7 linked regions of the Homo sapiens genome follow. The protein of the gene in region 6 purifies or fractionates together with the protein of the main gene of each other region. This does not show direct contact. Each region holds a gene or a part of one and is shown on either strand. Other genes may lie near its edges. The genes, in order: RAPH1, RPE, ALMS1, TSC22D2, KIF2C, DNM3 and FNBP1.

Region 1 (3,500 bases), on a different chromosome or scaffold from region 6:
ATGATATTGGCTTGGTGGCAGTGAAGGCGGTGAGAAGTGATCACATTCTAGACATATTCTGAAGATAAGGCCAACAGAATTTGCTGCTGGATTGAAAGGGAGGTAGAAAGAAAATAAGTAGATAAAGACTCCAAGGAGTTTGCTTGATGAACTAGACGGATGGAATATCCATTATTTGAGATAGAGAAGACAGTGGGAGAAATAAGTTTGAAGAGAAAGAGCAGGACTTTAGGTTTAGACCAGTTAAATTTGAGCAATCTATTTATGATGGTTAATTTTAGGTATCAACTTCATTGGATTAAGGAATACCTAGAGAACTGGTAAAGCATCTGGGTATGTCTGTGAGAGTGTTTCCAGAGGAGATGGTGTGTGAACCAGGACTGAGTGGGGAAGATCCATCCTCATTGTGGGTAGGCACTATCCAATTGACTGAGGGCCCCAGATAGAACAAAAAAGGCAGAGAAAAGGTGATTTCCTCCCTATCCTTCCTAGAGGTGGGACACTCTGCTCCTACTCTTGGATATCAGAACTCCAGGCTCTCCAGTCTTTGTACTGCAGGCCTTATACCAGCAGCCTCCCTTGGGTACCCAGGCCTTCAGCCTAGGACTGATAATTATACCATGGGCTTTCCTGGTTCCGAGGCTTTTTGACTTGGACTAAGTCACACTACCACCATCCTAGGGTCTCCAGCTTGCAGACAGCCTGTCACATGACTTCTCAGCCTTCATAATGGTGTGGGCTAATTTCCATAATAAATCCCCACTCATATCCTATTGGTTCTATCTCTCTGGAGAAATATAATACACAATTAGACATCCAAATAGAGATATTGATTAGAGATGGAATATATGCACCTGGAGTTCAGGAGAGAGGGACTGGCCAAAGATACCTATATTTCCTTAAATCTAAGAAGATTTGATGCTGGTACTTTCTTGATCTTTATTAGAAACTTTCAACAGAAGGACTTCATACAACGTACTATAACTGCCACCTTGCTGATCGTGACTAACAGGTGCCACACGATTTAAAATGTGGTTTCTCAACCTTGGCTCTATTTTGGGCCAGATAATTATCCTTCATGTGGGCTGTCCTGTGCACTGTAGGATGTTTAGCAGCACCTCTGGCCTCTACCCACTAGATGCCAGTAGTAGCACACGCCCTTGATGGACAACCAAAAATGTTGCATATACCCAGCAGGACAAAGTAGCCCAAGTTGTGAAGCATTGTTTTACAGGGATTAAAATGGGGGTGGGAAGATGTGGAAAAAAAGCATATGGCTGAGTGGTAACCAATTTAGCAAATCCAAGAGAAGCTGAATGCTGGGCCAGCACTGGAGAAAAGCAGAGGAGCACTCAATTTATATCGTGTAACCTCAGAAGTCCTCAGAAGCAAGAGTAGACAGGTGATGGTGCGACTAAAAGCAGGAAGAATGGTTGAAAACACATTTAAGAAAGCAGCTAATTCTCAGATTCCCTCTTTTACTCACTCACCCACCAGCAGTGGTCTCAGGTACAGATTAACATTCGCTGACAAGACCCAACAGACCATAGCTTGAAGCCAGATTCACTCAGTTCTGAATAAATAAAAAGAGACATGCCATCTTCTGAGGGAGTCCATACAGCTCACCACAGGCCCTTTTTGGGCCCATAAATAGCTCATTGTAAGGGAAAGAGACCACATGGTAAGTGCAGAAAACACCCTGGCTTAGGGAAACTTCATGCTCCATGGGAACCAGCAGTACCTTTTAACAGCCAATGAGGTTAAGTTCCAGGGCCCCTTAAAGAACACGTTCATGCTCATTTATAAGAGTTACACTGCTGGCCAGGTGCAGTGGCTCCCACAGTGTAATCCCAGCACTTTGGGAGGCCGAGGCAGGTGGATCACTTGAGGTCAGGAGTTCGAGACCAGCCTGGCCAACATGGCGAAACCCTGTCTCCACTAAAAAAAAGAAATACAAAAATTAGCCAGGCGTGGTGGCATGTGCTTGTAATCCCTGCTACTCGGGAGGCTGAGGCATGAGAACCATGTGAACCTGGGAGGCGGAGGTTGCAGTGAGCTGAGATTGCGCCACTGCATTACAGCCTGGACAACAGAGTGAGACTCTGTCTCAAAAAAAAAAAAAAAAAAAAGAGTTACACTGCACACCACGAAGTCAAGGTCTATGTCTTTTCATAGGCTAATTTATTCATTCATGGACAGTCTTCCTGGTCCATATACACTCACCAACAGGGGTCAGTTTCACAATAAACAATATTACCTGGAGATATTCTATATTTAATTCTTAATCCAGTATGTGTCCAGGAAAAGAATGCCAGGAGAAGGAAAACCCAAGGTCATTTTCCACGAAGAAAAGGACTCAGGCCTACTGTTAACCCTCTCTACCTAGAGCAGTGGTGATTCTCAATTGGGGGTGGATTTTGTCCTACAAGCAACATGTAACAATGTCTACGGACGTTTTTAGTTGTCACAACTGAAGAAGGTAAATGTGTACTACTGACATCTAGTGTGTACAGGCCAGGGATGCTGCTAAACATCCTACAGTGCATGGGACAGCCACTCACAAAACTATCTAGCCCAAATGTCAATAGTGCTGATAGCTGAGAAACCCTGACCTAGAAGGATTTGATGAAAGTTCATAGACTGGAACAATGGGGACCATCCTCATGTTCCAACCCTTCTTTCCCAAATGGGCTACTAAAACACTGGCAGCCAGCATAGAAGACTGGAAGAATCTTCTCCAGAGAAGCTCACCAGCCTAGGAAAAAAAACCTAAGGATAATCCTGAAGACTACAAAAAAAAAAAAAAGAAAGAAAAGAAATAAATAGAATTTTAAGAAGATGCAATTAATGGAACGCTAATTTGGCTTGAACCAGAGAGATTTAATCAACTGGGAGAAAGTCTGAAGTTGAAACAGTGATCACCATATAGAAAATTAAATATTTTTAAACATATATTCATTCCAGTAAAAGTAAAATGATATTCCAGAAAGGGGATGTAGTCACAAGAGTATATGGAGGTTAGCAGTAAATTTCAAGTATATAGTCATTTTAATATAAACACTGAATATGAGCTCAATCAAAATATATTTGGAGAATGGAAAAACAGGAAGGGAGAAGTGAGAAGAAGCTGTATATAGACAGCTATACCCTCCATCTTCTGGAGTAGAGTGAGAAGTCAATAGGTAATACATACCACTAAAAAGAAAATCAAGAAATGGCAATGTGTATGTAGACTTAATGATAAAGAGGTAAAGTCCCTAAGAATCAGCTAAATGAGCAAAAATTGCTTACCTCTGGAAGCAGAATATGATGTGTATGTGAGTAGAGGATAGTTTTCCGTAACATATCTCATAGAACTATTTAACGCCATGCATGAAAAACTAAAATATTTTTAAAACTGTATTTGCACTTAAAGACAATTTGATACATGAGTTCAGGATATATTAAGCTTGCCTCAGTTTACTTTATTTGAATCAGAACAGACTAGACCTAGGAAAAAA
Region 2 (4,270 bases), on a different chromosome or scaffold from region 6:
TATTCTGACCCCTTAAGGATTGCTCTTGCTAAGTCCATTTATCCCCGCCAAGTGGTTTTACTTCTGTCTCTTTTCCTGACCCTAGGCACATTTAGCATCAGGATACTCATCCATTTCTGAACTGTGTGTGAACAGCACACAAACCTATCACAATTTGTGAATGAGCATTGGAGAGGTGTAGGGGCCAAGGGAAAACTTTCCCTTCACCCTCCAAAGGTTTGCTGAAAATCACTGACAGAAAGAAGATTAACAGGAGAAAAGGCATAAAAACTTATTTGATTATAGTTTTACCTGACACAGGAGCCTTCAGAATGAAGACCCAAAGGTACAGGGGTGATTACCCATTTTTATACTTAGGTTCAACAAAGTATAGACAGCCATGTAGAAATACGATTGGACAAAATAGGCGATCTAATGCTAATAGACTGACCTGGCCTTGGCCAGTCTAGTTTAGATTCCTGGCCTCTCTGTGCAGCATTCCCTCCTCCTGGATATGGGATAGAACCTTCTCTAGAAGAGGAGTTTTATAACCTACAGTTGAGATGGGTCAAATAATTTATGGCCAGTTTTTACACAGAAAGGTGGAGGAAAGTTAGAGTAATGCTTTTGGGTTTTGTGTCTGGCTTCAGGGAAAGGGGGTTCCGGTTTCAATGACTCTTCTTAGGGAAGATGGGCTCCAGTTTCTATGACCTGCCTCCTAGAATGAGACTGAGAAGAGAGCAGGGCAGGAAGTCAGAGAAACACTGTTGCGTCTGAGGCCTTCACTTTGGGCTATCATTTTCTGAGCCTCAACAGAGGGAAAAACAAAAAAGGTAAGGAGGAACTGCAAAGGCAGAAAAAGAGGGTAATATAATAATAACTACCATTTTGTACTGAGCACCAGGCATCCTGCTGGGCGCATTACCTGGCTTCACTCATTTAATACAACCCTAAAGCTGGGCACTGTCTTTACAGATGAGAAAACCGAAGTTAAGAAGTGATTTGCCAGGTCACCCAGCTAGTATCTGGCAGAGCCAGGGTTCCTCCAGCTCAAAAGAAGAGCTCTAGGAGAAATACGAGGAAGAAAGGTTTTTAATTGTTGTTTTAAAGGGCCAGCATAGGCGCTGGAGAGGAAAGAAAGGCATATGCAAAGGGTGGAGAAACAAAAAGTGATGTTAAGTCAAGAGCCGAGGAGAGGGAACTGCAGGAGAAGCAAAGTGAAAAAAGGTTAAGAAACGCCTTGAGTACTGCGAGGACGTTAAGATCCAAACAGCACAAGAAGGAAGGTCAAAATCAGGTGTACGAGGCCCGTGTGCCCCGCCCCGCCCCAGGCGGACGGCTGACAGCGCCCCACCCCAGGAGGAGGCGGGACTTCCTCACCGCAGAGTGGCTGCTTCCGGTAGAATCCGGAAGCCTGTACGGAGAAGGGGCGGGGCCAAAACTGCGCGCCCAATCGGGGTGACGCTCTAGCCTTGCCGGGGACTCGTGGGTAACTTGCTTTTGGGAGCCAGCGGTATGGCGTCGGGCTGCAAGATTGGCCCGTCCATCCTCAACAGCGACCTGGCCAATTTAGGGGCCGAGTGCCTCCGGATGCTAGACTCTGGGGCCGATTATCTGCACCTGGACGTAATGGACGGGTAACTCCTCCGGGCTCCGGTCGGGCTTGCCGCGCGGCGGGGCGGATCAGTGCACCTTTATTGACTGCTTGTTGGATGTACCGCGTCCCTGTACCACCGAGCGCCTCACTCTGAACGCGATGCTAGAAGGGGTGTGGGGTAGGAGCCCTGGAGGCTCTAGCAGGAGCAGAACCGACGCGGTATCCTGGGTTGCGGCCGGGTCCCAAACCTCAGTTCCTCCCCTCCCCCCACGTAACGTGTGGTCTTCCATCACTTAGGACCCGGAAGCGACCTAAATCTTTAGGACATTTCTTCACTTTCAGCTAGAGAAACTGAGGCCCAAGGGGAGAAGCATGACTTGCCCAAGCTCATATAGCTAGTTAGTGGCAAAGCTGGGGAAACAGACTTCTCTAACGATTTAAGTTGGCACCTGCGGTTAGGTTCCCGAGTTCTGCCACTTGCTGGGTTACCTTGGACAAGCCACTAACCTCATTGAGCTTCAGTTTCATAATTTGAAAAATGGAACTACTAACAGAACCTACCGCTTAGGCATCTTGGAAGATGAAATGAGCGAGTACATGAGAAGTTTACAGTGCCTGGCGTATATTAAGTTCTCTATAATTGTTAATTACATCATTATTACAATTCTGATTTTCCTGTCTATTTTCTCTTCAGGCACCCTGCTCTTCAGGGAGGTCAGTTTTTTGTAAGTAATTTTTAAGCACCGTAGTTACAGCACATAATATTGTTTGGAGTCAGGATATTAGTTTCTGAAGTTGGTTACAGAATGAGGAAACAACCCCAGAGAAAGCAGTAAGACTCCCTCAAGATTACAGAAGATTGTGACAGACTTGCAACTTGGCTCTTCCTAGGTTTGCCAAGTAGTTCTCTGAGCCCCACTGTTAACTGACTATAAAAATCATAAATACCATTATCTTGAGTGGGGATGGAAAAATAAATTTATTTTAAATAGGTAAAAACCCTGTGTTCCCTCATTCAGTTTGCAAATTGGTGTTATTTTCTAAAGGTGATGATTTCCTTTTCTTTTTAATGTTAATCTGGCTTTGAAGAGTTTTATCTTCCATTGCTCTATGTGGTTAAATGTATTGTTTCTCTTTGGCATTTTACCCAGTTACCTTAGGAGTCCACCCAACTGATAATGACAAAACTTTGACCATAGAGTACTAAAAATAATAGGCCAAATGTGTAAAAAGTTTAGTAAATATTACCTCTCACAAAGGTTGGCTTTTAATTGGCCATTATATGTAATTATACTTATATACTTTATTTTTGACATCTTTGCTTGAAAGCCCTAAACTGTCACAGGTAATAATACCCTGAGTGTCTACCTCAAAGGTAAGTAGCTACATTTTTGTGCCTGAGAAAATACCTAGAGGGTCACAGGATGGAACAGCTATGTGTATATTTGTGAGTCTATTTGAGCAATTTGGTTTTAATTAAACTATGTTTGAGTAAGTTAATGGTTGGGGAAAGTAATTGTTTCGGTTCACCAGTCAGGATTATTAATGATAACCATAGTAGCAATGTTTATGAGCACTTGACTGTTTCTGTTCTGGAGTTTTTTTGTGAATTAACTCAAACAACCGTTTGAAATTGGTGGTGTTATTACCACCAGCATTTGACAGCGAGGAATTGGGCACAGAGAGGTTAAGTCATCTGCCAGTGGTCTCATAACTAGGAAATGGTGGAGCCAGGGTTGGAAGCAATGCAACAGCTTGTGTTGTCTCAAATGAAATGCTTTCTGTGGTTCCTAGGCTTACAGGGAATGACTAAGACATTGTTTGGCCTCAAAAAAGCAACTAATAATTTGTGTATTTATTTCTGTTAACTGTATACTTATTTTTGTTAACTTATTTCATGTCTCTCCTGCTACCCTATAAGCTTCCTGAAAGCCAAGTTTATCTTCTTTTTGCTCACCTATATATTCTTTGCTGGAAAAGCACCATAAGGTGCTTAGTTATTGTTGGCCGAATGAATGAATAGCTTAATCATAATAGGAGAAGTCTCTCAGAAGTCACTTTTGTCCCCTTGCAGCTCTATGGCAGACTGAGCTCAGTAAGGCAAAGTATTTACCATGGATCAGAGTTTTGGGAACAAAAAAATAAAAAATGAAGTATTTGTTTTTTATTGATTCCTCTTCCCCTTTGCCAGGAGATACTTTGGTTTGGAAAAACTGAATTCTGCATACACAATTTTAAAATTATTTCCCTTTTAATCTTCTCTACTTTCTGAGTTAAGAGCTGTTTCTATTCCCCTTTTGCAAAGGAGGAAACCAGTGTAGGGAGATTCAGCTTCTTCCCTGATGTCTCACCAGATTCAGCAGAGCCTGGCAGAGTTGGTGCCAGTGCCCCTACGTGATGTGCTGTGGTGTCTACTAGGCTAGGGCTATGAAAGTGGGCTGTGGACTCCTTTTTGAAATGTGGCCAGCCACAATGTCCCTTCCCTCCCAGGACTGCCTTCGTGTTTTTTTTTTCCTGGCCCCTTTTAAAAATCTCATCCAACATTACACTTTGGATGTGCTTATTGTTTTCTAGTCTCCTCCCCACTAAGACCTCCAATTTCTCCCCTGATTACAACTGAATTTCTTCATTTAGAAAGTCAGAAACCAGTCTGGGGAATACTGTGGAAGGTGGAGCACTAGCATGACTGGATAT
Region 3 (3,500 bases), on a different chromosome or scaffold from region 6:
TGCTCCTGGACTAGCTGACCAGACAACTGGCATGTCAACTCTAACCTCTACTTCCTACTCACATAGAGAGAAGCCTGGTACTTTTTACCAACAAGAGTTACCAGAGAGTAACTTAACCGAAGAGCCTTTGGAAGTTTCAGCTGCTCCTGGCCCAGTGGAGCAGAAGACGGGAATACCTACAGTATCCTCTACATCCCACTCACATGTAGAGGACCTCCTCTTTTTCTATCGACAGACCTTGCCAGATGGTCATCTAACTGATCAGGCTCTGAAAGTCTCAGCTGTGTCTGGACCAGCTGACCAGAAGACTGGGACAGCAACAGTACTCTCTACTCCCCACTCACATAGAGAGAAGCCTGGTATTTTTTACCAACAAGAGTTCGCAGACAGTCATCAAACTGAAGAGACTCTTACTAAAGTTTCAGCCACTCCTGGACCAGCTGACCAGAAGACTGAGATACCAGCAGTACAGTCTAGTTCTTACTCACAAAGAGAAAAGCCTAGTATTTTGTACCCACAGGACTTAGCAGACAGTCATCTACCTGAAGAGGGTCTGAAAGTTTCAGCTGTTGCTGGACCAGCTGACCAGAAGACTGGCCTACCAACAGTACCCTCTAGTGCATACTCACACAGAGAGAAGCTCCTTGTTTTCTACCAACAGGCCTTGCTGGACAGCCATCTACCCGAAGAGGCTCTGAAAGTTTCAGCTGTTTCTGGACCAGCTGACGGAAAGACTGGGACACCAGCTGTAACCTCTACTTCCTCTGCGTCCTCTTCACTTGGAGAAAAGCCCAGTGCTTTCTATCAGCAGACCTTACCCAATAGTCATCTAACTGAAGAGGCTCTGAAAGTATCAATTGTTCCTGGACCAGGTGATCAGAAGACTGGGATACCCTCAGCACCATCTAGTTTCTACTCACACAGAGAGAAGCCCATTATTTTTTCCCAGCAGACCCTGCCAGACTTTCTTTTCCCTGAAGAAGCTCTGAAGGTTTCAGCTGTTTCTGTATTGGCTGCCCAGAAGACTGGGACACCAACAGTGTCCTCTAATTCTCACTCACATAGCGAGAAATCTAGTGTTTTCTACCAGCAAGAGTTGCCAGACAGTGATCTACCTAGAGAATCTCTGAAAATGTCTGCTATTCCTGGACTGACTGACCAGAAGACTGTCCCAACACCAACAGTACCTTCAGGTTCCTTCTCACATAGAGAGAAGCCCAGTATTTTCTATCAACAGGAGTGGCCAGATAGTTATGCAACTGAAAAGGCTCTGAAAGTTTCAACTGGCCCTGGACCAGCTGACCAGAAGACTGAGATACCAGCAGTACAGTCTAGTTCTTACCCACAGAGGGAGAAGCCTAGTGTTTTGTACCCACAGGTGTTATCAGACAGTCATCTACCTGAAGAGAGTCTGAAAGTTTCAGCCTTCCCTGGACCAGCTGACCAGATGACTGACACACCAGCAGTACCGTCTACTTTCTACTCACAAAGAGAGAAGCCTGGTATTTTCTACCAACAGACCTTGCCAGAGAGTCATCTGCCTAAAGAGGCTCTGAAAATTTCAGTAGCTCCTGGACTAGCAGACCAGAAGACTGGCACACCAACTGTAACCTCAACTTCCTACTCACAACATAGAGAAAAGCCCAGCATTTTCCACCAGCAGGCCTTGCCAGGTACTCATATACCTGAAGAGGCTCAGAAAGTTTCAGCTGTTACTGGACCAGGTAACCAGAAGACTTGGATACCAAGAGTACTTTCTACCTTCTACTCACAAAGAGAGAAACCTGGTATTTTCTATCAACAGACCTTGCCAGGTAGTCACATACCTGAAGAGGCACAGAAAGTTTCACCTGTTCTTGGACCAGCTGACCAGAAGACTGGGACACCAACTCCAACCTCTGCTTCTTACTCACACACAGAGAAGCCTGGTATTTTCTACCAACAGGTCTTGCCAGATAATCATCCAACTGAAGAGGCTCTGAAAATTTCAGTTGCCTCTGAACCAGTTGACCAGACAACTGGCACACCAGCTGTAACCTCTACTTCCTACTCACAATATAGAGAGAAGCCCAGCATTTTCTACCAACAGTCGTTGCCAAGTAGTCATCTAACTGAAGAGGCTAAGAATGTTTCAGCGGTTCCTGGACCAGCTGACCAGAAGACTGTGATACCAATTTTACCCTCTACTTTCTACTCACACACAGAGAAGCCTGGTGTTTTCTACCAACAGGTCTTGCCACATAGTCATCCAACTGAAGAGGCTCTGAAAATTTCAGTTGCCTCTGAACCAGTTGACCAGACAACTGGCACACCAACTGTAACCTCTACTTCTTACTCACAACATACAGAGAAGCCGAGTATTTTCTACCAACAGTCGTTGCCAGGTAGTCATCTAACTGAAGAGGCTAAGAACGTTTCAGCGGTTCCTGGACCAGGTGACCGGAAGACTGGGATACCAACTTTACCCTCTACTTTCTACTCACACACAGAGAAGCCTGGTAGTTTCTACCAACAGGTCTTGCCACATAGTCATCTACCTGAAGAGGCTTTGGAAGTTTCAGTTGCTCCTGGACCAGTTGACCAGACGATTGGCACACCAACTGTAACCTCCCCTTCCAGCTCATTTGGAGAGAAGCCCATTGTTATCTACAAACAGGCCTTTCCAGAGGGTCATCTACCTGAAGAGTCTCTGAAAGTTTCAGTTGCTCCTGGACCAGTTGGCCAGACAACTGGCGCACCAACTATAACCTCTCCTTCCTACTCACAACATAGAGCAAAGTCTGGCAGTTTCTACCAACTGGCATTGCTAGGTAGTCAAATACCTGAAGAGGCTCTCAGAGTTTCTTCTGCTCCTGGACCAGCTGACCAGACAACTGGCATACCAACCATAACCTCTACTTCCTACTCATTTGGAGAGAAGCCGATTGTTAACTACAAACAGGCCTTTCCAGATGGTCATCTACCTGAAGAGGCTCTGAAAGTTTCCATTGTTTCTGGACCTACTGAAAAAAAGACTGACATACCAGCAGGACCTTTAGGTTCCAGTGCACTTGGAGAGAAGCCCATTACTTTCTACCGGCAGGCTCTGCTAGACAGTCCTCTAAATAAAGAGGTTGTGAAAGTTTCAGCTGCTCCTGGACCAGCTGACCAGAAGACTGAGACATTACCAGTACATTCTACTAGCTACTCAAATAGGGGGAAGCCTGTCATTTTCTACCAGCAGACCCTATCAGACAGTCATTTACCTGAAGAAGCTCTGAAAGTTCCACCTGTTCCTGGACCAGATGCCCAGAAGACTGAGACACCATCAGTATCCTCTAGTTTATACTCATATAGAGAGAAGCCCATTGTCTTCTACCAACAGGCCCTGCCAGACAGTGAGCTAACTCAAGAAGCTCTGAAAGTTTCAGCTGTTCCTCAACCAGCTGACCAGAAGACTGGGTTATCTACTGTAACTTCCTCTTTCTATTCACATACAGAGAAGCCTAATATTTCTTACC
Region 4 (3,500 bases), on a different chromosome or scaffold from region 6:
TTCGACCTCTGTTGTATGAAAGTCTCACTGAATTGAAGTCTCTAAAGATGGAAATTTCTTACTTGAATCTCTGTTTCTTGGAAGCTGACATTTATCTGTTAAATTGTGAAGGTAATTTTGCTCTTGTAGGTTTACAGTTGATGTCTGAATCACATACTAGATACTATCCTATGCCTATCTACACGTTTAAGAGTGTTCTTACTGAGGAGTTAGTAGTAAAAATGTAAATTCGTATATATGTGTCATTATTGTTTAGCATAAAAACTGATACTGATGTATTCATCAGGGATTACTGATGGATACCACATGGATTACTAAAACATACTTTATTCATAAACGTGGCTTGAAATAAAAGAAATGACAGATTTCCAAAAAGGCTTACGATTTTCCAAACTACCCGAAATTCCTAAACCATGAGCTATATCTGTAGGAGTGTGGCCTTTTATATTCACAGTGACACATACTGTATAAAATTTTATGTGCACTAAATCATATAGGCCAAACATTGGTAAATTTTTTTAGAAAACATGATGGCTTATATGTGTGTGAATAATACAGATTTCCAGCTGACTATTTTAGTAACACTTGTTTTTTCTTTTTAGGAGATCACAACCCCTGAACTAAATCACCTTTATGAGAAGTCATTTTATATAGGACTGGTGGTAGGGGTATATATGTCCTCTACTTCCTGAGAATAAATATAATGCCAATTCATTTGTTATTTAAGAATCCTGGGCCAGGAGCGGTAGCTCATGCCTTGTAATCCTGGCACTTTGAGAGACCAAGGTCAGAGGATTGCTTGATGCCAGGAGTTGGAGACCAGCCTGGGCAACATAGCGAGGCTTTGTCTCTACAAAACATTTAAAAATTAGCCAGGTCTGGAGGCCAACACCTATAGTCTTAGCTACTTGGGGAGGCTGTAGGAGGAGGATTGCTTGAGCCCAGGAGCTGGAGGCTACAGTGAGCTATATTATAATATTGCACTGAAGCCTGGGCCACACAGCAAGGACCTGTCTGTAAAAAGAAAAAAAATAATTCTGATAGCACTAATTTGGAAATAGTGAAATATGGTACTGGATCTATGAATCTGGTACTTCCTAATTAGGAATGGGAGTCTATCTTTCTCTGCACCAGAAAAGATCAGAAGCAGTTATGAACAAATAGCAGCCCCACCAATCAAGTAGTAGAGAAACCCAAATAAATCTGTTTCCTAATAAAGGAATGGTAGTTAGGAAAGTATAAAAGGAATCTGACCTTCCTTTCCTAAAATGGCAGGAGTTGGGGAAGGGGAAGTGTAGAATGATAGCAGATAATCAAAATGGAAGAAAGTACAGTGGAGTGGCATGAAATATAGTCTCAAAAGAAATAGGAACACTTGTGAATACTGAGGAATGGTGTTCTAATTCTTTCTTTGAAGAATTGTTTTAGTCCAGTGTGTATTTCCTTTTCTGAAGATTCTGTTTATTTCTTAATTGCATTACTCGTTAAATACTTAAAGTATGAGGAAGGAGAGGCCTTACAAAAGCAGGTCTGTCTGGTTAAACATAGCCTGAATGATATTCCGTAAGTAATTCCTTAAATTGGAAAAGCAGATTTTTGGTAAGAAATATTAATCATATTTAAGGAGTATGTGTAGCAAAACTCCTAAATTAGAATAAATTATTTAAGTGTATGGTTTTTCTTTATACTAAACCAGTGGGCTTGTGATTTGAGGCTACTGTTTTCGATGGTATTGTATTGAGTCCACAGAGAATATGTATACCTGAATCATTGGTATAATGTCTTTCCCACAGCAATTCTTGAACATATCAAATTACTCGATATTTGTTATATTCTTAATCTGGCATTGCTTAGGGCAAAAACTGGGTGTCCCTCATAAAAAGGTAGGAACAGTAGCCAGTTTGCACCATTCCTATACATTATTCCATGACTTTAGGAAGTATACTTTGAGGTATACTCTTCAGATTTGGTTTAATAATATTAAAGGTATATTGATGGATTGTTTCCTGTATGAAAGTATTGCATGATTTCTGCTCTTAAATCAGGTGAATTAAATTTCATCTGGATTGCTTATCTCAAATTTAAAGCCTCAAATCAGACTTAAATAATTAGTATTTAGTATTTAGTTTGATTCCTTTGTACCCAAGCTAATTTTTGTTTAAAAAGAAAAAGTGCTTCCATCCTTTTAAGTAGTACATTTATTTGTGATGTTAGTGAAAGTTCTGCAGGTAACTGAGTTAATTTTATTAGTGTTTGCCTGGGACATATACCTATTATTAGGGTAGGCAGGACAAATAAGTAAAGTCTAAATGTTAAATTACTTAAAGCTTCTTTTCCCATAAGCCTTTCCTAAAATTTGTCTAAAGAATATTGCTTTGTAGAAGATGGAGTTTGTGATTAATGTGTCAATTATTGTAAATAATGATGGCATAGTTTTAAATGTTAGTTTTAGGCTGTTCATCTTATTACACAAGTATATAATTTAATCTGAATAAAGGATTCCCAAAGGTAAGTGTAAAGCCTCTAGTTTCTAAAGTAGAGTTAGTATTTAGTTTTTATCAAGTGGTTTTATATGTTAAAGCAAAACAAATCTTTGCTTGGCATACCGTCTACCTAGTCTTTGAAGACAAAACAAAGGAGGGAGGAGCTGTTTTGATCAAATAAAACCAATAGCGTGTTTAATTATGTGTTAACATATGTGAATGACCATTACAGAGACAGTAGAGTCAGACATACCCGGGCTAAAATCTAACTGCTACATTTGACTTTGAGCTAGTTGGTGTAGATGCCTTGTTTCCTCTTATGAAAAATGGGGATTGTACCTACCTGGGAGAGTTTTAAGGAATTAAATGATGTGTGCAAGTAATTTGAACAGTCTGTAACATAATATATGTGGCAAACGTGTATCACAGAAATGTTAATATTTCAGTGTCCAAACTGCTCTCCCAGATCACCCCTTTACATGTTATAAATCATACCAAGAATCTTCCATTTTAATATGAAAGCGTAATTGTATGGTATGGATGTAGTCAGAAAAAAGGAGATGATGTTTTAGTCTAGACGAGTCATGATGTTGTAAGAAGTATAGGGAATTGTGTTCCAGTCCTGGCTCTTCTATCATTTAGCTGGTTTCTTTGGTCAAGTCATTTCACTTGTCTGTTTTTCTTTTTTGAGACTTTGTCAAATTTTAAGATTCCTTCTAGCCTTATGTATATGAGACCATACATTCAAGTGTGCTTCATGAGAGAACTGCAAACTTAAACTTTCTTCTTTTTACCCCTTTCCTGCCACTTGACTATTGTGTGGCAATAAATGAAGTTTGTAAATACTCATTAAGTAGGTTGATTGCCCAAGAAAACATTTAAAACAGCTTATCAGTCATTCAGCTTTCATGATGCTCTGTGAGTAGTGAGCACTGGAATACAAATATGAGACTATGCTGCCCTCCTAGATCTCAGGCATTTTCATCATCATGAAAATGATGATCAGATGTATACTTT
Region 5 (3,500 bases), about 130 Mb from region 6:
CAAGGTAGGCCAGGTTTAGGACAGGATGTAAACTATCTGTGCCTCACTAGAAGCAGAACAGCAGACAGCTCAGTGTGTCTACCTGAGTTCACAGGGTTTGCAGAAGAGCTGCCTCGGATGGAATGGACTTGCTCTTCCATCTCCTCGCTGACCATCCTCAATGGTATTTCAGCCACTGCAGGGCAGGAAGGCCTAGTGGGGGCAGCTGTAGGGGAACAAGAGTCACTGGAGAAGCAGGCAAGTATACCACAGGCATCTCACCTGAGCCCATGGCCCTGGTTATGGGCCGGGAGAGCGACCTGCCTGCTCGGTAAGGCTTACAGTATGTGCAGAGCTTGTGCTTTTCCCTTCACCTCAGCCCACACTCTCACCCTTTCTGCAAGGGCTGGCTCCTGGGGTCAAAATATCTTAAAGGGTATGTGAACAGTTCAGTATGGGCTTTGACATGAAGGGAAAAGCCTCTGAGAGCGTGAACTCTTTAGACTTCACCCAAGCATGGGTTCTCAGGCCAGGCCAGGTCTGGTCTTAGGGAGAAAAGCCAGGCCTTTCTGACTTCTCTCAAGCCTCAGGAACCCAGGTGGTTAACAGGAGCAAAGACTGAAAATCTAGGGTGACAGGGAACTGGGGCAATAACTAACCAGATTGATTCAATACAGAAAGGTCCAATCCACAACACCTCATTACTTCCCATACGTGGTCATGACCCATTCATTTACCTTCATCGTATTAGAGCTGAATTTGATATATGTAAAGTATAATGGTTGTGTGTCTTACACAATTTGCATCTAATTTATATAATCTATTAAAGACTGACAAATAATTCACATTACAAATTTTTATTTATATTTACTAATTTTCCACACCTCATCTGACTCACTTAAAAAATCTTAAAATTCAATTTATAGCCGGGCACGGTGGCTCACGCCTGTAATCCCAGCACTTTGGGAGGCCGAGGCGGGCGGATCACGAAGTCAGGAGATCGAGACCATCCTGGCTAACAGAGTGAAACCCCGTCTCTACTAAAAATACAAAAAATTAGCCGGGCGCGGTGGCAGGCGGCTGTAGTCCCAGCTACTTGCAGGCTGAGGGAGAATGGCATGAACCCGGGAGGCAGAGCTTGCAGTGAGCCGAGATCGCAGCACTGCACTCCAGCCTGGGCGACAGAGCGAGACTCTGTCTCAAAAAAAAAAAAAAAAAAAAAAATTCAATTTAATATAGGCCGGGCGCAGTGGCTCAAGCCTGTAATCCCAGGACCTTGGGAGGCCGAGGTGGGTGGATCACGAGGTCAGGAGTTTGAGATCAGCCTGGCCAATATGGTGAAACCCTGTCTCTACTAAAAATACAAAAATTAGCCAGGTGTGGTGGTGTGCACCTGTAGTCCTAGCTACTCGGGAGGCTGAGCCAAGAGAATGGCTTGAACAGGGGAGGCAGAGGTTGCAGTGAGCTGAGATCACACCACAGCACTCCAGCCTGGGCGACACAGCGAGACTCCATCTCAAAAAAAAAAAAAAAAAAGGTATAAAAAGAGGGCCGGGTGCAGTAGCTCACGCCTGTAATCCCAGAACTTTTGAGAGGCCAAGGCGGGCAGATCACATGAGGTCAGGAGTTCGAGACCAGCCTGACCAACATGGAGAAACCCCATCTCTACTAAAAAGACAAAATTAGCCTGGCATGGTAGCACATGCCTGTAATCTCACCTACTCGGGAGGCTGAGGCAGAAGAATCAATTGAACCCGGGAGGCAGAGATTGAGGTTAGCCAAGATAGCGTCATTGCCCTCCAGCCTGGGCAACAAGAGCAAAATTCCGTCTCAAAAAAAAAAAAAAAAAAGTACAAAAAGAGGGCTGGGCGAGGTGGCTCACGCCTGTAATCCCAGAACTTTGGGAAGCCGAGGTGGGCGGATCACTTGAGGCCAGGAGTTCAAGACCAGCCTGGCCAACATGGCGATACCCCACCCCTACTAAAAATACAAAAATTAGCCGGGCGTGGTGGCACATGCCTGTAATCCCAGCTACCCAGGAGGCTGAGGTGGGAGAACTGGTTGAACCTAGGAGGCGGAAGTTGCAGTAAGCCAAGACCACGCCATTGCACTCCAGCCTGGGTGACAAGAGTGAGACTCTGTCTCAATAAATAAATAAATAAATAAATAATAAAATACAGAAAGAAAAAAAGCTAATTAATGCTATTAGAAGTCAGGATTATGGGTACCCTTGGGGGAATTAGGAGCTGCAAATATGCCCAACAGGGACTTTTGAAGTTCTGTTAATGCTCTGATCATGTTAGTTACATGAGTGTGTTCTGTTTATGAAAATTCACTGAACTATATACTCAATGCTCTGTGTACTTAGACCTTAGACTCCTCAACTATCTCAGAGGGCTTCTGCCTAGTCTTTCACCTCTTCCAAAAGACTGATTCCATGGCCACAGGAAAACATGCCCCCATGTGACAAACAGGGCTTGAACTCAGGCGATTTGAAGTACTGGTAATGCTCTGATCATGTTAGTTACATAAGTGTGTTCAGTTTACAAAAATTCACAGAACTAAATACTCAATGCTATGTGTTCATGTCTGTGTTTATGTGTGTGTAATGTTTCAATTAAGTTTTTTTAAAAAAGAGATGATTTCCAAATAAGAAAGCCGTGTTGGTAGGGCAGGAGCAGACCAGTTCTGAAGCTGGGGGAATGGATGAATCTCAGGATATTCTAGCACAGGGACCAAGCAATGTGCTCCAGGGCCTCAAACATGGTGGTTGGGGGCACATTCGTTACTCACGAGGAACTGAAAACTGCTTGCGGGAGTTTGCAGCTGCAGGCAGCTCCACCTCCATGTCATTCTCCTGAGCCGTGATGCGAAGCTCTGAGACAGTGGACATGCGAGTGGAGCGGCTTCGAAGACCTGGAGAACCGAGAGCAGTAGCCAGTCAGTGCTGCACGATCTCGAGGGTGGTCAGGGGCAAACCTCCAAGTTTCTGTACAAGGTGAAATAGGTCCCAGCTACCAGGAAAGGGGCTCGCCAACTTCCCATATTCCTTAGAAAGGAAAAATTAGAAAGACCAAGTACCAGTAACCCCAAAACCTCTTTGTCCACATTGTGCAAATCTAGGAGCTCCTGAGGGCAAGGATATCTCCCACAAAGAGCGGCTGTCTTGAGTAAGTACAGGAACCTATAGCTATCCTGAAAACATTTCTGGAGAGAGAGAGACCTAATCTAAGTCCTTGAGAAAAAGTATTATGAATCTTTTTTTTTTTTTTTTTTTTGAGGAGTTTCGCTCTTGTTGCCCAGGCTGGTGTGCAGTGGCGCGATCTCGGCTCACTGCAACCTCCACCTCCTGGGTTCAAGCAATTCTCCTGCCTCAGCCTCCCAAGTAGCTGGAACTACAGGTGTGCACCACCAGACCCAGCTAATTTTTGTATTTTTTTTTTAGTACAGACGGGGTTTCACCATGTTGGCCAGCATGGTCTCAATCTCTTGACCTTGTGATCCACCCGCCTCGGCCTCCC
Region 6 (3,500 bases):
TTTTAATACATGTATTGTGTGAATGAGAGGCATCACCGTGTTCCGTACTGTGACCCTCCAATTCTAGAAACAAAGAGATTTTAAGGAAATGGTCTCCTTGGTAACTGAACTGTAGGAAACTGTAGGAAAACCCTAGAAATGTCTCTTCTATTTGTGAAGGGTTTAAAATGGTCTCAGTCATAGAAAAGAAGGTTTAAGATCCAAACATATTACGGGTTGCTAGAGAAGGGTTAAAGTAAGAGAGGAAAACATGTGGAACATTTTTAATGACCTCACATTCCTTTACACTGAGCAGAGCGACATGGTGCAGTAATGCCTGTTTATCTAGCCTAGAGAGTTTGAGCTGGAATGAGGTTTCATGTGTGAGAACTTTTACAAACCATACAGAGATGTATAGGTTATAAGGTGTTATAATTAAAAACATAAATATTATTTCAGATCTCAAATTTAAGTATAATCACTTTGTTATGTTAGGTGAAGTATTTTCTAAATGCTATCATCTAAAAGGGATTCACTTGACCCCTGATTGTCATGCAGAATTCTTGATTTAAATATTTGTACCAGATTTAAATGTCTGTATACCACTGGCATACAGACTTCCCAGAAAGTCCCTGAAGTGTCTGGAAACTCCCGGAAGTCCCCCTACCTTCATTCCAAACTCCAATTTTAGTGTCACAAAGCTAGGTTAGCAGAAGGAGAGAAGAGTATCTCTAAAATTTTGCTTAAATGCAAAATAAAAAATGTTAACCTCTATGCCCTATTTAACTATGTCGCTTGATACCTGTACTGTTGCAACAGCTGTCTATTGTTCTCCTGTCTCGATGTACCTAATGCCAATGTAGCCTATAGACAGTAAAAATCACAGCATTTTTTGGAAGGGGCACTAACTGTGTGCTGGGCATCATGCTAGACAACTTGTATTCATTCCTTCCTTTAATCCTCACAATACTTGAGGTAGCTCTACCCTCATTTCACAGATGAGGAACCTGAGACTCAAACAGTTTACATTATTTGCCCAAGAACAGTAAGTGTTAGAACTAGAACTTAAATCCACAGCCTATGCTCTGAATCCACTGTATTGCACAGTAGGCAAGTTCCAGTGTGTCATAATTGCTGTGGAAGATTCAAGGCACATCTTTGGTCAGAATGCTGAAACAGGCCCTTATTTTGCTTCATGGTTTGACAGTTGATTCTTAATTCAGCTCTGCTTTAAATCTATTCTTGGAAGAATCTTCTTTTAAATTGTATTTAATAGATTCTAAGTGATATTCCAGTAATATGTAAAGTTTCTAAAGAGCTTAACCCAACCAATGGTCAATGCCAGGAAAATTGTCTGGTTTTGAGTTTTGAATTGCACCATGCATCCAACTGCATATACATACCCAACAGTGGGAGATTTGTGCAAATATCCATGATTCCCTGCATACCTGCAAGTACATTTAGAAGTGAATGCGTCTGTAAGGAAGGGAATGAAATATTCCTAAAGCCAAATTTGCTGCCTTCCCTCTAAATCTGACTTTCTTTTCTGATGTTTGAGTTTCTATTCTCCTACTCATCCAAATGTCAATGCTTGAGATGTCTTTGGTTGTTCCTTTCTTCCTTGCCCTTCACATCCCAACAGCACCAAGTTCAGTTCATTATTCCCTTATAATGTCATTGTATGTATCCATTTTTTATACTACTGCGTTATTAAATGAAACATTTACCATCTTATGAACGATCTACAATAGCCTTCTAACAGATTTCTTTATTTTCACTACCACCCTTGCAAAGTCTTTTTCAATGTTAGCCAGATTAATTTTCCTAAAACTCTCTTTTATTGTTTCACTTACTTGCTTAAACGCTTTCGCTGGCCCCTCATTGCCAAGCAAATAAAGTTCAAACACTTTTCCTTGGCATTCAAGGCCTTCGCATCTGCCTCAGGATTCCTGGCCAAACTTACCTTCCACAACTATCGTGCATAAACCTCTACTCCACAGAGGGTTTCCTAAATACATCTTGTGTATTAGATTACTTTCACCTTTGAATCACTCTTGGTTTACAAAATATGTACAGAAAACACTTTATTTCACCACAATAAACCTTTGATTTAGCTGAATTTTTTGATTAGTAGAATTATTTACATGTTTTGATGCCTTTAAAACATAATGAAGCTATGTGTTTTAGGTTCTTGTCATCTCTGAATTACAAATTTAACCATATCCTAGAAATTTGGAGCATCTGACAGCTGTTCTGTTATCTGCCTGATTTTTTAACAATTAAATATATACTTGCGTTTGGCCTTTCTTAAAGATATTCATGAGTCTAGATAAGAGTTAGCTTTCTCATGTAACAGAGAAACTGAAAAATTCAAACGGCTTATTTTTACTAGGCTTAAGTTAATTGCTGCACTACTGTAAAATAATGATACTTAAACAAAAATTTACTTTTTTAAGCACTCAATCACAGTGAGATAATGGGGTAAGGGAATGGGCACCGGACTTCAAGTCAGAAGGTTATGGATTCAACTGAATGCTGTGTGACCTAGCACAAGATACTTAAATTCTTGGAACTTGTTTCTGTATCTATAAAACTGGAATACTAATACATGTTTCTTCAGTGTGTGATAAGAATTGTCATATAACTTATGAAGCCACTTGGTATATACCATACTTCATCGATTCTCACATTCACTTCTTTTTATTTAATATTTCTGAAATGAAGATGCATCTTATACTCAATGGCATCTTGACATCCTGTCAAAGTTTGATTGATGGTATTTTTTTTTTGTCTGAATAGTCAGCACATATGATAGTAGTGTTTCTTAAAATCACTGGTGTCTTAGAGTTGATGAGATACAGTAGCTGGCGTTCCCACTCTCAGTGTTGTGCACCATATTCATCCTCTCCATTTTCATCCTGCAACAAAATGCCCCTCCCCCTGAGACTCCCACATAGTGTTCATACTTTAGTTTGTTTTTATATATTAGCTAACTATGCAACCTCATGTCAGTCCCCATCACTGTTAACTAACTTCTATTGTAAACTTCTGGAAAACAGAGTGCATCTCTTTCACTTGTTTATAAATCAACCTGCATAGTTATATAAGATTCTGTATTTAATAAATATTCACTTACTGGTGCTAATTTCACTTTTGAGACGACACTGAAACTTGGCATCTCAATAATTTTCCAGTGATTTTGGTAAAAGCTAGGGAAAGGACTGCGAATGCCAAGGAATGGAAAACGTGTGATTACATAGGTTTCTTCACATCACTGTTTTCTGTTGAAAATACTGCTTCTTACCTCATAGTACCTTCCCTCTTCTATAAGCCAAACAGCTCCAGACAATATTGTGAAATGCTCACAAAGCCAGCAGGCCCTGTTCTGGTGATGGCTGGGTTTGGCCTTCTTCTACTCATCTCTATCATCCTTCAGTGTGGACAGCCAAAAGACAGAGGGAAACTGTTACTGTCACCAGTACTGGGGATAGAGACAAAACAAAAGTAAACAGACGCTTGGT
Region 7 (3,500 bases), on a different chromosome or scaffold from region 6:
CCTTCCTCTCCTAGACTGCTGGTTACCTTGGCTGGGAGAGAGGATGTAGTGGGACATTCCTGTAACACTTTATCCGCACATCTACTGGAAATCGTTACCATGTTAATAACTTGGTTTTGAATTCATGTTAACATGTGTACCCATGAACATTTTTCATTTTCTTTTCATAGTGCGATACATAGGTGCATGACAGCATTAACCTGGGGACGTAGAATATGATCAAGGCAGCATTACTGCTTTAACTTTAGAATGACTTACTATTTATTAATTTAAACAGACTGCTGTTTCCACAACCTTAGCATTGAAGGTCTTTCATTTTCTCCCATCAAGCTATGTTAGTTTAGGTAATGTAGAAATATTTACCCTCTGGCTTAAGCTGGTTTAGAGTAACTAACTAGAGCTATAGTTTGCATGGGAAAGTCTGCACGAGCTTCTTGTCAGATATTTCTTGCTCTTCTGTCGCATTACTTACTAAACCTCCCAACTCTCATCATATTCTTCATTTAACCACCTCCTACATGTTTTCTTTTGGACCATGGCCTAAAATTTAATTGTTTGTGTTTTACTTGCGTTGGATTTCAAATATTATTTGATGCTTATTTTTGTTTTGTGTCTTCTTGTTTCTGATTTTTACTCTGTCACGGCTCCATCTCTTACATGTAGCTTATGTCCCTTTTAACATCCCCCCATCAGCCTCCCCCTCCCCCTCCTGCCTCTGCCTCACCCTCTGCTGTTCCCAACGGCCCCCAGTCTCCCAAGCAGCAAAAGGAACCCCTCTCCCATCGCTTCAACGAGTTCATGACCTCCAAACCCAAAATCCACTGCTTCAGGAGCCTAAAGCGTGGGGTAAGTTCTGCTCCGGAATCCTGTCTCTCTGGCGTGCTTTGGTTGCATGTTTGGTTCTGCATAACTAATTTTGTTTGTGAATGAATCCATTGTGTTTTCCCATAACATATAAAAAAGTTAAAAAAAAAAAAACAAAAACCATTATAGCTAGAAAGAAAAGCCAGAAAGAGGAAGAAAGAAAGAAGGAAGCATGGTGGTTGGAAGAAAGGAGAAAACCAGACAGCCCAGAGTTCTTTCTATTTGTTTCTTTCTTTTTTTTTTTTTTCCAGACAGAGTCTCGCTCTGTCACCAGGCTGGAGTGCAGTGGCGTGATCTCGGCTCCCTGCAACCTCCACCTCCCGGGTTTAAGCGATTCTCCTGCCTCGGCCTCCTGATTAGCTGTGATTACAGGCATATGCCACCACGCCCAGCTACTTTTTATATTTTTAGTAGAGACAGCATTTCATCATGTTGGCCAGGATGGTCTCGATCTCTTGACCTTGTGATCCGCCCGCCTCGGCCTTACAAAGTGCTGGGATTACAGGTGTGAGCCACTGCGCCCGGCCTTTTTCTTTTCGTTTCTAGTACATTTTGGAAGGACTTTACCCCTCTTCCTCTTTAAAGCATCCAAGTCATGCATTTTCTACCTTAATTTTACCAAAAAAAACCACTTAGATTTCATTTCTAAAACTAGCGACCTGAGACTGGGCGTGATAGTTCACATCTGTAATCCTAGCACTTTAGGAGGCCAAGGCAGGAGGATTGCTTGAGCTCAGGAGTTCAAAACCAGCTTGGACACCATAGTGAGACCCCCATCTCTTAAAAAAATATATAAAAATTAATAGGACAAGCGCAGTGTCTCATGCCTGTAATCCTGGCACTTTGGAAGGCCGAGGCAGGAAGATTACTTGAGCTCAGGAGTTCAAGACCAGCCAGTACAACATAGTCAAACCCCATCTCTAAAAAAAAATAATAAATAATAAAAACATAAAACTAGCAACCTATGAGATGAGGAATTGGAAGTCACTGTGTAAGTCAGAAAATATTGCCTTAATAACTACTGAAGCAATGTGAGTGTAATGAAGATACTTGCCTGAGCTATGCCTCAGGGTCGAAAGGAGAAGAGTCATAAGTCACAGTGGTTTCATTCGCTATTTTAGTGAGATTATATAAGATGTTGATAAAATATCTGTTGATTGGAAGGGGCCTGATGCAGAATTTCTCTTTAAAGGATGAAACAATAAAAGCAGCTGACACTTACTGAGCACTTATTGTGTGCAAAGCTCTGTTCTGTGTGCTCATTTACTTTTTTCCAGCCACCCTATGAAGCCCAGGTAGTACTCATATTTCCTTATTTTACTGTAAGGAAATTGAGGCATAAAAAGGTGAAGGTGGGAAGATACAGAGCCGGGATTTAGATCCGGGGAGTCTGATTACAGAGTCTGAGATTCTGTGACATCCACATTCAGGGAGAAACTACTATATTGACTCGTAAGTGGTTGTTATTAAGATTGAAGTCCGCTGTCCTCATTAAGATTGATGTGCGCTTACATCATAGAGATAATGGAATTGATGCAGCCATCCAATGTAGATACCAGTTTCGTTTACAGAGAAAGATTGGCATAAAGCAATGTGTAGATTCCCAAATCATTCTCAATGGCCAGTCTAGTCTAAGCCTTCCCAAAATATCTTTTATAATGAATATAATGAGTAAACAGATCTTTAGACTGGGCCCAGTGGCCCACGCCTGTAATCCCAGCAGCGTTAACATATCCAGTAAGGTTTTCTCCTTTTTTTTTTTTTTAAATCCTACCCTGTGGGAGTTGCAATACAGTTGTAGTGGAATGCTTTCTTGTACAAACATAAGTTTTACTTTTCCCTTCTCCTGGACTCTCCAGTCAACTGACGGTTGGGTTACTTCTTTCCAAATAGTACCTGGTAGTGCCCCAAAGCCAGAGGTGGATGCCATCCTTTCTTGAGTGTCAACTGACACATTGGCCTGGGAAAAGATTCTAAACTACAACTAATTAACTAGAGGAGAGATGTCCTTCTTAGACTTGGAATCAACAGCTGGTTACTAGTAAAAGAATAACAGTAGTCATTGTTAACCTGACAATCGTATTTCCACAAAAACAACTCTGTGTAAAAAAGAGGCCTGGCACAGTGGCTCATGCCCGTAATCCCAGCACTTTGGGAGGCCGAGGAGGGCGGATCACCTGAGGTCAGGAGTTCGAGACCAGCCTGACCAACATGGTGAAACCCCGTCTGTACTAAAAATACAAAAATTAGCCGGGCATGGTTAATGTCCGGCTAATTACAGGCGGGTGCCTGTAATCCCAGCTACTCGGGAAACTGAGGCAGGAGAATCGCTTGGACCTGGGAAGTGGAGGTTGCAGTGAGCCAAGATCACGCTATTGCACTCCAGCCTGGACGACAGAGCAAGACTCTGTCTCAAAAAAGAAAAAAAAAAAACCCATGAAAAAATAGCCAGGCATGGTGGCATGTGCCTGTAGTCCTAGCGGAGGCTGGGATGAGAGGATTGCTGGAGCCCAGCCAGGGCAACAGAGTGAGACCCTTTCTCCAAAAAAAAAAAAAGTAAAGAATGTAAATTCATAATTGATAACAAGTTTATTATCAATGCTTTTTAAAAATAGGGGACAAAACAATATTTCCTC

The links.
Region 1: the proteins of DNM3 (region 6) and RAPH1 purify together in Homo sapiens (affinity purification with mass spectrometry; 3 studies listed by BioGRID and IntAct, with this or other methods). This does not show direct contact.
Region 2: the proteins of DNM3 (region 6) and RPE fractionate together in Homo sapiens (co-fractionation; one large-scale study listed by BioGRID). This does not show direct contact.
Region 3: the proteins of DNM3 (region 6) and ALMS1 purify together in Homo sapiens (affinity purification with mass spectrometry; 3 studies listed by BioGRID and IntAct, with this or other methods). This does not show direct contact.
Region 4: the proteins of DNM3 (region 6) and TSC22D2 purify together in Homo sapiens (affinity purification with mass spectrometry; one large-scale study listed by BioGRID and IntAct). This does not show direct contact.
Region 5: the proteins of DNM3 (region 6) and KIF2C purify together in Homo sapiens (affinity purification with mass spectrometry; 3 studies listed by BioGRID and IntAct, with this or other methods). This does not show direct contact.
Region 7: the proteins of DNM3 (region 6) and FNBP1 purify together in Homo sapiens (pull-down; one study listed by IntAct). This does not show direct contact.

The regions. Positions count from the first base shown.
Region 1 is NC_000002.12:203,483,302-203,486,801, forward strand, and holds part of RAPH1 (ras-associated and pleckstrin homology domains-containing protein 1), read right to left. Parts: intron 1-3,500. UniProt on the Homo sapiens protein: Mediator of localized membrane signals. Implicated in the regulation of lamellipodial dynamics. Negatively regulates cell adhesion.
Region 2 is NC_000002.12:210,001,168-210,005,437, forward strand, and holds the start of RPE (ribulose-phosphate 3-epimerase), read left to right. Parts: upstream 1-1,470; 5' UTR 1,471-1,494; coding exon 1,495-1,616; intron 1,617-2,270; exon of another isoform or gene 2,271-2,301; intron 2,302-4,270. UniProt on the Homo sapiens protein: Catalyzes the reversible epimerization of D-ribulose 5-phosphate to D-xylulose 5-phosphate.
Region 3 is NC_000002.12:73,448,336-73,451,835, forward strand, and holds part of ALMS1 (centrosome-associated protein ALMS1), read left to right. Parts: coding exon 1-3,500. UniProt on the Homo sapiens protein: Involved in PCM1-dependent intracellular transport. Required, directly or indirectly, for the localization of NCAPD2 to the proximal ends of centrioles.
Region 4 is NC_000003.12:150,414,798-150,418,297, forward strand, and holds part of TSC22D2 (TSC22 domain family protein 2), read left to right. Parts: intron 1-3,500. UniProt on the Homo sapiens protein: Reduces the level of nuclear PKM isoform M2 which results in repression of cyclin CCND1 transcription and reduced cell growth.
Region 5 is NC_000001.11:44,749,837-44,753,336, reverse strand, and holds part of KIF2C (kinesin-like protein KIF2C), read right to left. Parts: intron 2,896-3,500; coding exon 2,773-2,895; intron 206-2,772; coding exon 83-205; intron 1-82. UniProt on the Homo sapiens protein: In complex with KIF18B, constitutes the major microtubule plus-end depolymerizing activity in mitotic cells. Regulates the turnover of microtubules at the kinetochore and functions in chromosome segregation during mitosis.
Region 6 is NC_000001.11:172,383,498-172,386,997, forward strand, and holds part of DNM3 (dynamin-3), read left to right. Parts: intron 1-3,500. UniProt on the Homo sapiens protein: Microtubule-associated force-producing protein involved in producing microtubule bundles and able to bind and hydrolyze GTP. Most probably involved in vesicular trafficking processes, in particular endocytosis.
Region 7 is NC_000009.12:129,921,190-129,924,689, reverse strand, and holds part of FNBP1 (formin-binding protein 1), read left to right. Parts: intron 1-663; coding exon 664-846; intron 847-3,500. UniProt on the Homo sapiens protein: May act as a link between RND2 signaling and regulation of the actin cytoskeleton. Required to coordinate membrane tubulation with reorganization of the actin cytoskeleton during the late stage of clathrin-mediated endocytosis.